Homo sapiens: one gene and its partners. The protein of the gene in region 3 interacts with the protein of the main gene of each other region in a biochemical or structural test. Each region holds a gene or a part of one and is shown on either strand. Other genes may lie near its edges.

Evidence for each region.
Region 1: the proteins of FYN (region 3) and HTR6 form a complex in vitro, tested with the Homo sapiens proteins (one study listed by IntAct).
Region 2: the proteins of FYN (region 3) and TUBA3C form a complex in vitro, tested with the Homo sapiens proteins (one study listed by BioGRID).
Region 4: the proteins of FYN (region 3) and SOS1 form a complex in vitro, tested with the Homo sapiens proteins (one study listed by BioGRID).

Annotation. Positions count from the first base shown.
Region 1 is NC_000001.11:19,667,875-19,671,374, forward strand, and holds part of HTR6 (5-hydroxytryptamine receptor 6), read left to right. Parts: intron 1-3,500. UniProt on the Homo sapiens protein: G-protein coupled receptor for 5-hydroxytryptamine (serotonin), a biogenic hormone that functions as a neurotransmitter, a hormone and a mitogen. Also has a high affinity for tricyclic psychotropic drugs.
Region 2 is NC_000013.11:19,176,049-19,178,824, reverse strand, and holds part of TUBA3C (tubulin alpha-3C chain), read left to right. Parts: intron 1-430; coding exon 431-579; intron 580-1,217; coding exon 1,218-1,898; intron 1,899-2,776. UniProt on the Homo sapiens protein: Tubulin is the major constituent of microtubules, a cylinder consisting of laterally associated linear protofilaments composed of alpha- and beta-tubulin heterodimers.
Region 3 is NC_000006.12:111,702,453-111,705,952, reverse strand, and holds part of FYN (tyrosine-protein kinase Fyn), read left to right. Parts: intron 1-1,850; coding exon 1,851-1,954; intron 1,955-2,918; coding exon 2,919-3,068; intron 3,069-3,500. UniProt on the Homo sapiens protein: Non-receptor tyrosine-protein kinase that plays a role in many biological processes including regulation of cell growth and survival, cell adhesion, integrin-mediated signaling, cytoskeletal remodeling, cell motility, immune response and axon guidance.
Region 4 is NC_000002.12:38,988,552-38,992,051, reverse strand, and holds part of SOS1 (son of sevenless homolog 1), read left to right. Parts: intron 1-2,737; coding exon 2,738-2,782; intron 2,783-3,500.

The sequences.
Region 1 (3,500 bases), on a different chromosome or scaffold from region 3:
TCCCAGCTGGGCTCTTTTGGTGTAGCCCTGAGTGGTGAAAGCTCTAGGAGGGTGGGGGTTGCATTGGAGGTCACTGGGCACATGGGGACTTGGCAGAGGGGTGAAAGGCTAACACCCTCCTTGGCAGTCCCCCAGACAAGCTTGCCTGTCCCACCCAGGTGGGTGAGGCCCAAAGTTGCCCCTGCCTATCACCTGGGGTGGGGGCAGGGCCCCACATGGACTGGGAGTCCTGGCTGCCGCCCAGCTCCTTCTCCCTATCCCTGCTCCCTGTAGAACATTCTTGAGTCTTGGCAGGTGGCTGGGACTCTGACTTGCTTCTTCAGGGGTGGGATGGCTGCCTTAGGCCATATACCCTGGGTTCTTGCTTTTTGTTGTTGTTATTGTTGTTTTTTAAGAGACAGGGTCTTGCTCTGTCACCCAGGCTGGAGGGCTGGAATGTAGTGGCGTGATTATAGCTCACTGCAGCTTAGAATTGATCATAGCTCATTCCAGCCTGAAGAGCTGGTATGCACTGGCCCGATCATAACTCACTGAACTCTTGGGCTCAAGCGATCCTCCTGTCTTGGCCTCCCAAAGTGCTAGGGTTACAGGCTTCCCTGGGTTCTTGAAAAGGAGTGTTTCACAAGCTTCAGGCATTCAAGAACTGCCTGCGGATATCTTCCTTAATGCCTCTTCCACCACCACCTCCACACCTTAAGCCACTTAATTCACATGCACTTGGCATTTTATTTATTTATTTATTAGACACAGGGTCTCACTATATTGCCCAGGCTGGCCTCGAGCTCCCACTTCAGCCTCCCGAGTAGCTGGAATTGCAGGTGCATGCCCCCGTGCCTGGCATTCTTGACATTTTCTTTAAATCATCTCTTTTATATTTTTACTTCCACAAATTTGTGTAGAAAGAAAACTTCGTATCTCCTCTAGAAATGGAAAATCTGTATCCTTTGCCATAAATAGAAGGTGATCACAAACACCACTTCAGTGAAACTGAAGAAGCTCCAGCCCTATCACTGAAATGCAGCTTGGTGTGGTTGAGGTGATGAGCCTAGGGCCTGCTTTCTCTTTGTAGCGTGCTAGAAGGTATTACAAACATGGTAGCATCAACGTGGGACTTTCTCTTGACGCACCTAGAAGAGCTGGAAGACAGCTGTAATGGGCTGACGTGCTCACTCTGTGATTCACTCATTTTATGGGGTGTCCCTTTACCATCTAAAATCATCTCCATTCCCACAGTTCAGGAAGCTCTGCTCTCGTGACTAAGGATGTGAGAAGTTGGCTGGTCTGGGTGAGGTTGGGGCGGGAGAGATCAGGATTCCTAGTTGCAGCGGTGCCAGTACCACACAGATTTTCTTTCCATGAATCTCGCTGGCTGGTACTAGGATTGAACCTGAGTCTGTGGTCTTGGAACCTGGGCAGGAGTCTCCCAGGTGCTAACAGCTGCAGCCCCACAATCTGTGAGCACTCACTCTGTACCAGGCACTGAGCTAAACTTATTAATTCCCCAAACACCCAATGAGTCAAGTACTACCAGCACCCCTGTTAGACAGGTGGGGAAACTGAGGCTCAGAGCGAGAGGTGACTTGCCCAAGATTGCACAGTTGGTAAGTGAGGTTTAAGCTCGGATCTGGCTGGTGCCATCGCCCTGTGCTGGTGTGCTGCCTGTGGGCAGTGATGCTCTTGAAATGCTTTGCTCGGGGACCCCACACCTTGCCCCTTTTCTTCTCTGTGCCTTCTGGTCTTCTCTGTTGGGTCCTCCTGATCCGCCTGAGCCATGGCATCCCTAGTCCTCAGTCCTCGGAGCATCTCGTCCTTTTTCCACATTTGCCCCGTTAGTGACCTCATCTTGTCTCGTAACTGAAAATACCACCCACACGCTGATGACTTCCTACCTGGGCTGCTTACAGGCACGTGCTGCCACGCCCAGCTAATTTTTGTATTTTTAGTAGAGACAGGGTTTCACCATGTTGGCCAGGCTGGTCTCGAACTCCTGACCTTACGTGATCTGCTAGCCTCGGCCTCCCAAAGTGCTGGGATTACAGGCGTGAGCCACTGCGCCTGGCCCTGACTTCCTGATTCCGCTCTTCCTCCCTTTCAACCTTCCGCAGTGGCCCCAATGATCCCCTTTACAATGCAGTTCCTGCTGCATCATTCCTCTGCTCTGGCAGCCTTGTGTCTCACATCACCTGGCCCTCTGACCCTATCTGGCCTCCTCTCCTTCTATAATCCTGCTTGTTTCTTCTCTTTCAGCCATACTGGCCTCCTTGCTGTTCCTTGAACACACCAAGCCCATTCTGCCTCACTTGCGGTTCCTTCTGCTTGGAGTGCCCTTTCTTCAGGTCTCCACCCTGTTCTCCCACTAATTTCCATCATTTCCTTCCAGCCTCTGTTGAATTGCCTCCCCTAATCCCTCTCTCAAGAGTAGCACCTCTCACCCTCCCCAGGTCCTCTCCAGTCCTCATTTCCTAAGTTATTTCTCTCAGCAGCACCTCCTACCCCCTGACGTGTTCTATACCTACCCATTTTTATTTATTTACTGTTTATTTCCTTCTTCTAGAATTTAGGCCTATGAGGGTGGGGAACTTGTTTTTCTGCCTTTTTTTTTTTTTTTGAGACAGAGTCTCACTTTCTCGCCCAGGCTGGAGTGCAGTGGCGTGATCTTGGCCCACTGCAACCTCCGCTTCCCAGGTTCAAGCAATTCTCCTGCCTCAGCCTCCGGAGTAGCTGGGCTATAGGTGCACATCGCCACACCGGGCTAATTTTTTGTATTTTAGTAGAGATGGGGTTTCACTGTGTTGCCCAGGCTGGTCTTGAAACCCTGAGCTCAGGCAATCCACCCGCCTTGGCTTTCCAAAGTGCTAGGATTACAGGCGTGAGCTACCATGCCTGGCCTGTCTTTCTGTTTTCCCCCATGGTCCCAGGAATTAGGGGCACCTGGCACATCATGGGTGCTCAGTATGTATTGATGGAAGGAATGCAGTGTACACAGTGCTTCAGGGAGCCTGGTATTCCAGCCCTGTTTGTGCGGTTGCCTGTTTTCTCATGCCTTTCAGAGTCACTTCTTGAGTGTCATGATCCTGAACTTTTTATCGTGTGAATTCATTTGCTTGGTGACATGTATTGACACCTGCTTTGCACAGCAGCTGTTCTAGGCTGTGTATGTAGTGGTGAACGAGACCAACAGTGCCTGCCCTCTTGAAATCTGTTCTAGTTAGGAGTACAGACATTAATCATCAAACTGTACCACGATGAGGATTATGGAGCTTATAGGAGGGATGCTTCACCCAGCAAACATTCAAAATCTATTATTCACTGTGTATGTTTGAAGATGAAAGCAAAGCACTCACACCAAGCCCTAAAGTGAAAGGCTGGAGGGGTCTTCATGGGTTGGTTAGGCCAGCGCCTTACTTCTAAGGCAGAGTGACTCAGGGGCCTCTCAAGCCAGAAATGTGTCTGTTCTAATCCCCCCGCTTTCTGGAAAGCCCATTCTCTTGGTTTGAACG
Region 2 (2,776 bases), on a different chromosome or scaffold from region 3:
CACACAGGGTGCCCTGATGGGACTGCCCTGCAGAAGTCACACTGACCTGGTGACTTCTCAGTTTGTAAGCATTTTTAACTTACAGCCTTCGATGTAGCTACATGTAGGAAAGAATTATGTACCTGTAGAATTACCTGTGTGGGGGTGCTGGAGCTTATTTCCCTTCACTGGGAGCTGGTCGTGCTGACATTTATATTGTAAGCTGAGTTTCACTTCCTAGAGTCATAAATCACAGTTTGGTTATCACACATTTGCACTTTGGTTATCACACAGAGACATTTTCTACCAGACACTGCCACTGTTGACCTACAACATGTAGGTCATGTACTTTGAACAGCATGTACTTTGTAGAAGTGAACAGTCCTGGAATGTGTCCATCTTGGTGAGTATAGGCCTTAAAGATTCACAGTACATACGGTCTCTTTTGTAGATGAAGTGCGCACAGGAACCTATAGGCAGCTCTTCCACCCAGAGCAGCTGATCACCGGGAAGGAAGATGCGGCCAATAATTACGCCAGAGGCCATTACACCATCGGCAAGGAGATCGTCGACCTGGTCCTGGACCGGATCCGCAAACTGGTAAGAAGAGAAGGCTTCATGTGACCATTGTCCTGCACAGGAGGGTAGATCTTAGATTGTGAAGGGGAGGTCATTTTGTCAAAACCTAGACCAGTGCGTTGGCTGGGTCTGGTGGCTCACGCCTGTAATCCCAACACTTTGGGAGGCCAAGGTGGGCAGTCACCTGAAGTCAAGAGTTTGAGACCAGCCTGGCCAACGTGGTGAAACCCTGTCTTTACTAAAAATACACACATTAGTCAGGCGTGGTGGTGCCTGCCTGTAGTCCCAGCTACTCAGGAAGCTGAGGCAGGAGAATGGCTTGAGCCCGGGAGGCAGAGGTTGCACTGAGCGGAGTTCATGCCACTGCCCTCCGGCCTGGGCAACAGAGTGAGATTCTATCTAAAAAAAAAAAAAAAAAAACAACTTAGAACAGTATCTTGAGTCCTATTGCGTCTGCAATGGTCTTAGTCTGAAGTATGCATGGTGATTTGTCTGTAGATCTTTGTCTGCTTTTCTTTGCTTCAGAGTGTACTGCGTGTTTATTATGGATGATTGGAATCCATATCAAGTCTTCAGAGGCAGAGAAGTGGCCCTGGCTTGGTGGAGGTTGGTGGTGTGGCTTCCACGGGCATTGATTCATGTTGTCTGGTTTCCCTCAGGCGGATCTGTGCACGGGACTGCAGGGCTTCCTCATCTTCCACAGTTTTGGGGGTGGCACTGGCTCTGGGTTCGCATCTCTGCTCATGGAGCGGCTCTCAGTGGATTACGGCAAGAAGTCCAAGCTAGAATTTGCCATTTACCCAGCCCCCCAGGTCTCCACGGCCGTGGTGGAGCCCTACAACTCCATCCTGACCACCCACACGACCCTGGAACATTCTGACTGTGCCTTCATGGTCGACAATGAAGCCATCTATGACATATGTCGGCGCAACCTGGACATCGAGCGTCCCACGTACACCAACCTCAATCGCCTGATTGGGCAGATCGTGTCCTCCATCACGGCCTCCCTGCGATTTGACGGGGCCCTGAATGTGGACTTGACGGAATTCCAGACCAACCTAGTGCCGTACCCCCGCATCCACTTCCCCCTGGCCACCTACGCCCCGGTCATCTCAGCCGAGAAGGCCTACCACGAGCAGCTGTCCGTGGCTGAGATCACCAATGCCTGCTTCGAGCCAGCCAATCAGATGGTCAAGTGTGACCCTCGCCACGGCAAGTACATGGCCTGCTGCATGTTGTACAGGGGGGATGTGGTCCCGAAAGATGTCAACGCGGCCATCGCCACCATCAAGACCAAGCGCACCATCCAGTTTGTAGATTGGTGCCCAACTGGATTTAAGGTATGACTGGGTAATGTGGAGTCCTTGTACCTTTCAGCAAGCAACAGACACACAGAGTAATGCTGCCCCTGAAGGCCCACATCCTTTGAGGATACTACCCCTATTCCATGGGCTAGGCATGTGGGCATCAATTAGTGAACCAGAGTGATCATTAATTCAGTGATGTCTTTTTTTTTTTTTTTTTTTTTTTTTTTTTTTTTTGAGGCAGAGTCTAGCTTTGTCGCCCAGGCTGGAGTAAAGTGGTGTGATCTCAGCTCACTGCAATCTCCATCAGCCTCCCAAGTAGCTGGAATTACAGGCACCCACCACCACACCCAGTTAATTTTTATATTTTTAGTAGAAACAGGGTTATGCCATGTTGGCCAGGCTGGTCTTGAACTCCTGACCTCAGGTGAGCCACCCACCTTGGCCACCCAAAGTGCTGGGGTTAGAGGCGTGAGCCACTGTGCCTGGCCCAGTGATGTCTTTTGAACTCTTTCTAAGTCATTACACTATGTATCTGTGATGAGCTTTACTTACTTACTTTGTTGTTGAGAAGGCTGGAGTGCAGTGGTGTGATCTCGGTTCACTGCAACCTCTGCTTCCCAGGCTCAAGTGATTCTCTCACCTCAGCCTCCTGAGTAGCTGGGACCACAGACATGCACCACTACACCCAGCTAATTTTTGTGTATTTAGTAAAGGGATTTCACCATGTTGGCCAAGCTGGTCTCAAATTCCTGGTCTTAAGTGATCTGCTTGTCTTAGCCTCCCAAAATGTTGGGATTACGGGCATGAGCCACTGTGCTCAACCCTATTTATTTACTTTTTTGAGACAGAATCCCACCTGTCACCCAGGCTGGAGTGCAGTGTGGTGATCACAGCTCTCCACTAAAAATACA
Region 3 (3,500 bases):
TACAGGGTCCACCGTGATGGCTCCCTCCTGTAATCCCAGCACTTGGGAGGCCAGGGCGAGAGGATCACTTGAGCCCAGGAGTTTGAGACCATGCTGGGCAACATAGGGAGACAGTCTCACTCTGTCCCCAGGCTAGAGTGCAGTGGCCCTGTCTCAGCTCACTGCAACCTCCACATCCCTGGTTCAAGCAATTCTCGTGCCCCAGCCTCCCGAATAGCTGAGATTACAGGCACATGCCACCATGCCCAGCTAATTTTTGTATTTTCAGTAGAGTTGGGATTTCACCATGTTGGCCAGGGTGGCCTCGAACTCCAGACCTCAGGTGATCTGCCTGCCTCAGCCTCCCAAAGTGCTGGAATTACAATCATGAGCCACCACTCTTAGCCTCTACAAAAAAAATTTTTTTAGTTAGCAGGTGTGGTGATGTGCACCTTTAGTCCCAGGAGGCTGAGGTAGGAAGATTGCTTGAGCCTGGAGAGGTCAAGGCTGCAGTGAGCTATGATTATGCCACTGCACTCCAGCCTGGGTGACAGAGTGAGACCCTGTCTCAAGAAAAAAAAAAAAAAAAGAAGAAGAAGATGATGAACACAGATCACAATCCAGGTGCTTGGTAAATAAATGCCTTTACTTATCCAAGTCCTCACACACCTAGGGGAGGAAAACAAAATACAAGTAAGTACTCATGGGCGTTTTTCTCAGAATTCTTATAGGGAGGAAGTTATTGAAAATACTATTCCTTTATTCATATCATATCTATCTAATCTGACTTTTTTTAATGCTTGATTATCTTCATATACATTAAGACTGTGTTTTGTTATTTCCCAGCAGTTACAATAATGCTTAGATATCAAGAGATTCAAGAGTTTTGTTTTTTTGTTTATTTTTTGTTATGAGACAGAGTCTCGCTCTGTTGCCCAGGCTGGAGTGCAGTGGCGCAATCCTGGCTCACTGCAACCTCCACCTTCCAGATTCAAGCAATTCTCCTGCCTCAGCCTCCTGAGTAGCTGGGATTACAGGTGCATGCCACCACACCCAGCTAATTTTTTGTATTTTTAGTGGAGATGGGGTTTCACCATGATAGCCAGCATTGTCTCCATCTCCTGACTTCATGATCCACCCACCTTGGCCTCCCAAAGTGCTAGGATTACAGGCATGAGCCACCATGCCTGGCGTTTGTTTTTTTTGTTTTGTTTTGTTTTGAGACACGGCTTTGCTCTGTCACCCAGGCTGGAATACTATGGCACAATCTCAGCTCACTGCAGCCTGGGCCTCCCAGGTTCAAGTGATTCTCCTGCCTCAGCCTCCCGAGTACCTGGGATTACAGGTGCCCACCACCACACCAAGCTAATTTTTGTATTTTTAGTAGAGCTGGGGTTTCACCATGTTGGCCAGGCTGATCTCAAACTCCTGACCTCAGGTGATCTGCCCACCTCGGCCTCCCAAAGTGCTGGGATTACAGGTATGAGCCACCATGCCCAGACTAGAGTCTTTTAGATAAGTGTGGAAAGGGTCTCCTGCAGTAACCATTTCAAATCAAGGTCTTAGATTTCTGGTTTTTTGCATACAGGTGGCAGTTTTAACACAAACCAGTTCTGGTCATGTCTAGAGGGGAGGAAAACAACCCACAACTCAAATCTGATTTTTTTTAAAGAGTGAAAGAGATGAATTAGGGATAGAATCCAGGATAGATTGAAAAGGAACTGAATTAAGCTAGAAAAAAAATACATCCAGGGAAAGGTTAAGGACTAAATTGGAGGAGAGGGGAATTCATGGGCAAAAAAAAAGCCTATGCTGTTGCATTTTGTAAATGACTATTTCAAAATATTTTCTTTCCTTGATCTAATTTAAAGGTGGTACTTTGGAAAACTTGGCCGAAAAGATGCTGAGCGACAGCTATTGTCCTTTGGAAACCCAAGAGGTACCTTTCTTATCCGCGAGAGTGAAACCACCAAAGGTAAGATAACGAGTTGAAGAAGTTGGCTTGTCATTCAAATCTGTGGATTAGTCAGAGGGGATGAAAGGCTTATCTCTAATGTACAAGGATTTTAAAATGGCACATACCCTCCCTGCCTTGTGAGTGGAGTCCTGTTTTCAGTCTTCCCTCCAGGCTCTAAAACTGCAGACAGCACCAAAAGAACTACAGAGGCCCCAAATCAAGACCTTCCTCCTGAAACGGGCTGGATGCAGCTACACTGCTCCAGGCACACAAGATCGTAGAATTTTCAGAAGTCCTTTAGAATTTTGATTTTCTGAAATCTTAGTTCCTCAGGTGCCAGTCATACAGGTTGTTTTTGCTTTCCTTTTGTTTTTTAAATAACTGAGGACTTCACTTCTCTTCCTCCAACTGTTGGACTTTTCATTATTTAACAACTCCTTACAACCCACAAGAGGAGACAGGTCAAGGAAGAAAAGAGTAGTGGCCTCTAGCTTAATTTGCCAGATTATCCATTCCTGTAAAAAGTGTTGTAAAGCAGAAGCTTGAAGCTCACTTCTAGAGAAACAAGCCTTAGATTTCTTTTGCACATGCTGCTGCTACCTCCCAGTATGCCCCTGGGTAGAGAAGACAAGGGAAGCAAGCTCAGCCATTCATCGTGGTCCTTCTTTACCCTTGGGGGAAAGGAGTGTTGGAATTGAGTCTACGCTGTATTATGCAACAAGGGGTACCGAACAGTGTGTTTAAGAAAAATGTCCAGGAAGCTTTCAGTCTCAAGGGCAGAATCATTTTATTGCTAATATATTCTGACATTTGCAGAACATCAAGAAGCATCTTCTTCCTGTTACTGAGTGGAGATGCTGTGTGTGTGTACATGTGTGTGTGCATCCTTGGTAATTATTAATCAGAGTCAAGAAAATGAGGCCTAAAAAGCAAGCTGATACTCTAAATGATTGGAGCTGCTAATGCTTTCCACGTTTACCAGGTGCCTATTCACTTTCTATCCGTGATTGGGATGATATGAAAGGAGACCATGTCAAACATTATAAAATTCGCAAACTTGACAATGGTGGATACTACATTACCACCCGGGCCCAGTTTGAAACACTTCAGCAGCTTGTACAACATTACTCAGGTAACCTTAATTCTAACTACCTACTAACCATTTGGATGCTGGAGGGAGTGGATAGGCCCAGAGCAGGAAAGTGGAAAGGGGTAAAACTAATATGTACAAAATCACTTATAGAGTATGTTTTCTTTGCCAGCCCTTAATGGTAGGGCTTGGCTGTATAGGTTCTATTGCTATTGTTCTACTGTTGTTATTATTAGTTCCACATGTTTGTCCGAAGATTCTATAATATTTTTGTTTCCCAAGTAGAAAGCAATAGGTTAAATTTTAAAAGTTGTTTGTTTTTTCATCTTCAAGTTGTCTTTTCCCATTCCCCGCGTTGCATGTGAGAAAGCAGTCTCTCGGAGGGCGCTTACATGGGGACTCCTACAAGGAATATTGTGTTTCCACTATCACTTTACCCTCAGCACTGTTGCAGGAATAGCTGCACGTACATTT
Region 4 (3,500 bases), on a different chromosome or scaffold from region 3:
TGTCATCCCAACATATTCCACTCAAAGCAGTACAAAGTTCCATTGTTTAAGTTTTTCAAAAGGCAGAGTTTGACTAGAATTTTTTTTTATCAGTTATAATACTATACTATTCTTTTTTTACTCTTACGGTTTTTTCCCAAAATAATCTACTTTTAAAAACCTATAATTAATTATTTCAGCCAGTATCTGCTGCATATCTTATTCCTTGCTAAACACTTACACGTCTTCACTGGGAAAGCTTGCAGTCTTACTGAGAGATTAAAAATAATCATAGTGCAAAGAGATTCACAGTTAAACGCTAAAAATAGTGGTAAAGACATAAATACTGGAGAAGCTTATAGAAAGATGACCTCAGAATGAGCAAGAGTGGTCATGGAAAGCGTTGTGGCAAAGACAGGGCAGAGAAGTGGCCACGTACTTAGTGCTGCCACACATACATTCAAAGCCCTGCTCCACACCTTGCCCTGGCCAGGTCCACCTTTGAGGTGATGACGACAGTTGCTGAGAAAAGAGAAAAGACCACTGGCTCACTACTTGTTTCTGCTGCTATAATAGAGAGGAGAAAATGATGAAATGCTCTTTTTACCTTCCTGTTTGAAGATTGCCTGGTCATAAAAGGGAGTCAGAGGTCTGACTTCTCCATTTCCATCCCTTAGGGGACTCTTTAACAACAAAAAGAATGTATTACAAGTATGTCAAGCTGATAACGCAAGGCTTTTCCTCCTGGAAGATTGCTGTAGGTGATGAGTTTCTAATCCCAAATATATTTGCATTTACCAGGCTTTTGTGAGTTTAAGAAGTTATCTATCATATCTTTTTTTTTTTTTCTATAGAAAAATGCTTGTTTCTATCAAGAATGACTCCTTTATAAACTGGGGAGTATCTTTAAGAGTGGTTTCAACCCTGACTGTATAGTATCATCTGTTGAGGAGCTTAAAAAAAATATGTAGGCCCAGCCCACACTAGACTGGCATTGGTACCTGGTATCAGTATTTTTTAAAAACTTCCCATAGGATTCTAATGTACAGCCAAGATTGAGGACCATTTGTCTGTCATCTGGGATTATGCTTAATAAATTAATACTGTTTTTTAAATTAATTAGATTTCACTTCTAAGTCATTATCAGTAAATTTACTCAGTATCTAACTGACAAGAATTTCTAGCATATATTTCTTGATTAGTGCATGTAAAATTCTAAAAGAATTTCTATAGTATTTTCCAGGCAATAAGACAACTAGTGCCCCAAATTTACCAAATGCATGAGTCTAAGCCTGTGCTATATATAAATATACTCAAAGCCAAGTTTACATCTGTGTACACAAGTGTGCATGCATATGTACAATTAAAGACTATAGTTGTAACAGTCATGAGCTTGTGTTTTGATTTTACTCCTATTCCTGTATTGTATTAAGTGTACTATCATGTTCTTGAGGCATATCTCCAGGAGATATGTTTATTTCTTTTCCAGGAAAAGTGGGACATATATAAGTAGGGTAAACGCTAGAGCTAGATACTCCTTTAATCTCTATTACGTCAGATCTCTGGCTCCCTTTTACAACCAGGCAATCTTCAATTATAGGTGGCTAATAGGGAAGAAAATCATCGGCAGAGCAACAGCTTCATGTAATTTCAGAGTAGAAAAATGAATTTTAATCTTCTGAAAGGTAATATTAGAATTAGCTGGATTGCTACACTTAGGAATCATAGGTTCCAAATAAATATCAGTACATACGGAAATCAGATAATGGGACAGATTATTTGAAATTAGGGCTGCCTAGAAATCTGGAATGTGAGATCACCCTCCTTCTGACCAAATATGCTTGAATAAACTTAATATTCCAAATTATGTGAGGGATTGCCTATTGTGCAAAAAAAAAAAAACGAAATCTGAATTTAAAAAAAATTACCACAGTCTAGTATTATTTTAGTCTCTTGGATGTTATAACGTTATCTGTTCCATCTGTTGTTAATATGAGACACTGTACAAACAAACAACTATATTGATTTAGAATCAGTATAGATCACCTAGCTTTTTGTCTCAATTTTCCTACTTTAATGCTCTTGGGGCTTTCGCTTTTGATTTTCAGTTTTTTCCTTAAAATAATTAATATTGTTGAAATTAGACTTTCTAAATTTAAATTTATCAGAATTTCCTATGTAAAATGAGTCTAGGCACCAAATGTTTAATGACTTTAAAAAAAATGTTTATGACTATAAAAGGAAAAACCCTGTATCAATTTCAAGCTTGTTTTATATCCAAAGTGCTAGTTATTTTGTGATGAGAATATATGCCCCAAGAACATTTTTGAAAGACATATAATTAGTAACTTTTTTATTTTTCAACTTACATAAAATAAACTTATTACTTGTTTCACAAGTTTGAGTTTTCAAAATAATATTTACTAAATGGCATATTTATATACATCCAGCTGAACTTTTTGCTTGAATTGGGTTTCTACATTTTAAAAAGTCTTTCAGTAATATACGATTTTTTTATGAATGTTTTTCATTTAATAATTATGAAATCAAGTAAAGCTAAAAGGAATCTTAAATTCCCAATATGATATCATTTTTTTCTTCTCAAAAGTAAGTAGTAATGAGGTTTTACTATAAACTGTTACAGCATTCTTTAAAACGACAATGACAATAACATTTTCATCATAATACAAATTTTTGCAGATGAGTTGAATATATCAATGAAAGAAAAAAATCTACTTTTTCTTGTTTCCTTTCACAGGCAATGATACCGTCTTTATCCAAGTTACTCTGCCCCATGGCCCAAGTTAGTATATTTGGTTTAAGACTCATAATTCTTGCTTTGGCTTTAAAAATCAAACCAAGTGTAACCTTTCCTGCTAAAACTCTTCTTGGGTCTGGCAGCATTGGTACCTTGCTTGCAACATCCTAGAAGTGAGGCCTTCACTTGTGCTATCTTTAGATCATAAGTGATTTGCTTAAATTTATATATTTCTCATGCTTTTTATAAAACCTTGTTTCTCTCTTAAAAGAACATATTAAATAAGTGGCTTCCACATTTAACCATTTCTTTTTTCCAACTATAGAGTTCTAAGTATATTTTAATGCTCAACTTTGAAAAAAAAAAAAAGGCAAGAGCATGCATGCGCATATGGGAATGCTGGCAGCTACATGCAGTTTCTAAATCACAAAATATACTTAGCCTGATGGCAGGATAGATTATAGACAACTGCTTTTGACTTTAGAAGAACTTTCTTATAATTGTAATTATTCAAAGTATAGCCTAAATACTGATAAACAAAATAAAGTTCCATTTTAATTGTAAGGTAAACTAACAAGTCACTAAATTCCATTATTTTAATTATTTAAGCTAATATTTTTTTGCTGTCCTTTCATACAATTTCAAAATATGTACAATGGAAAATACTAGTTACAAGCTGAATTAACTATATTCTTAAGAAAAAAGGTAGGTGATCAAAATGTTGATCATTTAAATAATATCAGTACACAAAGTACTCTTTTTA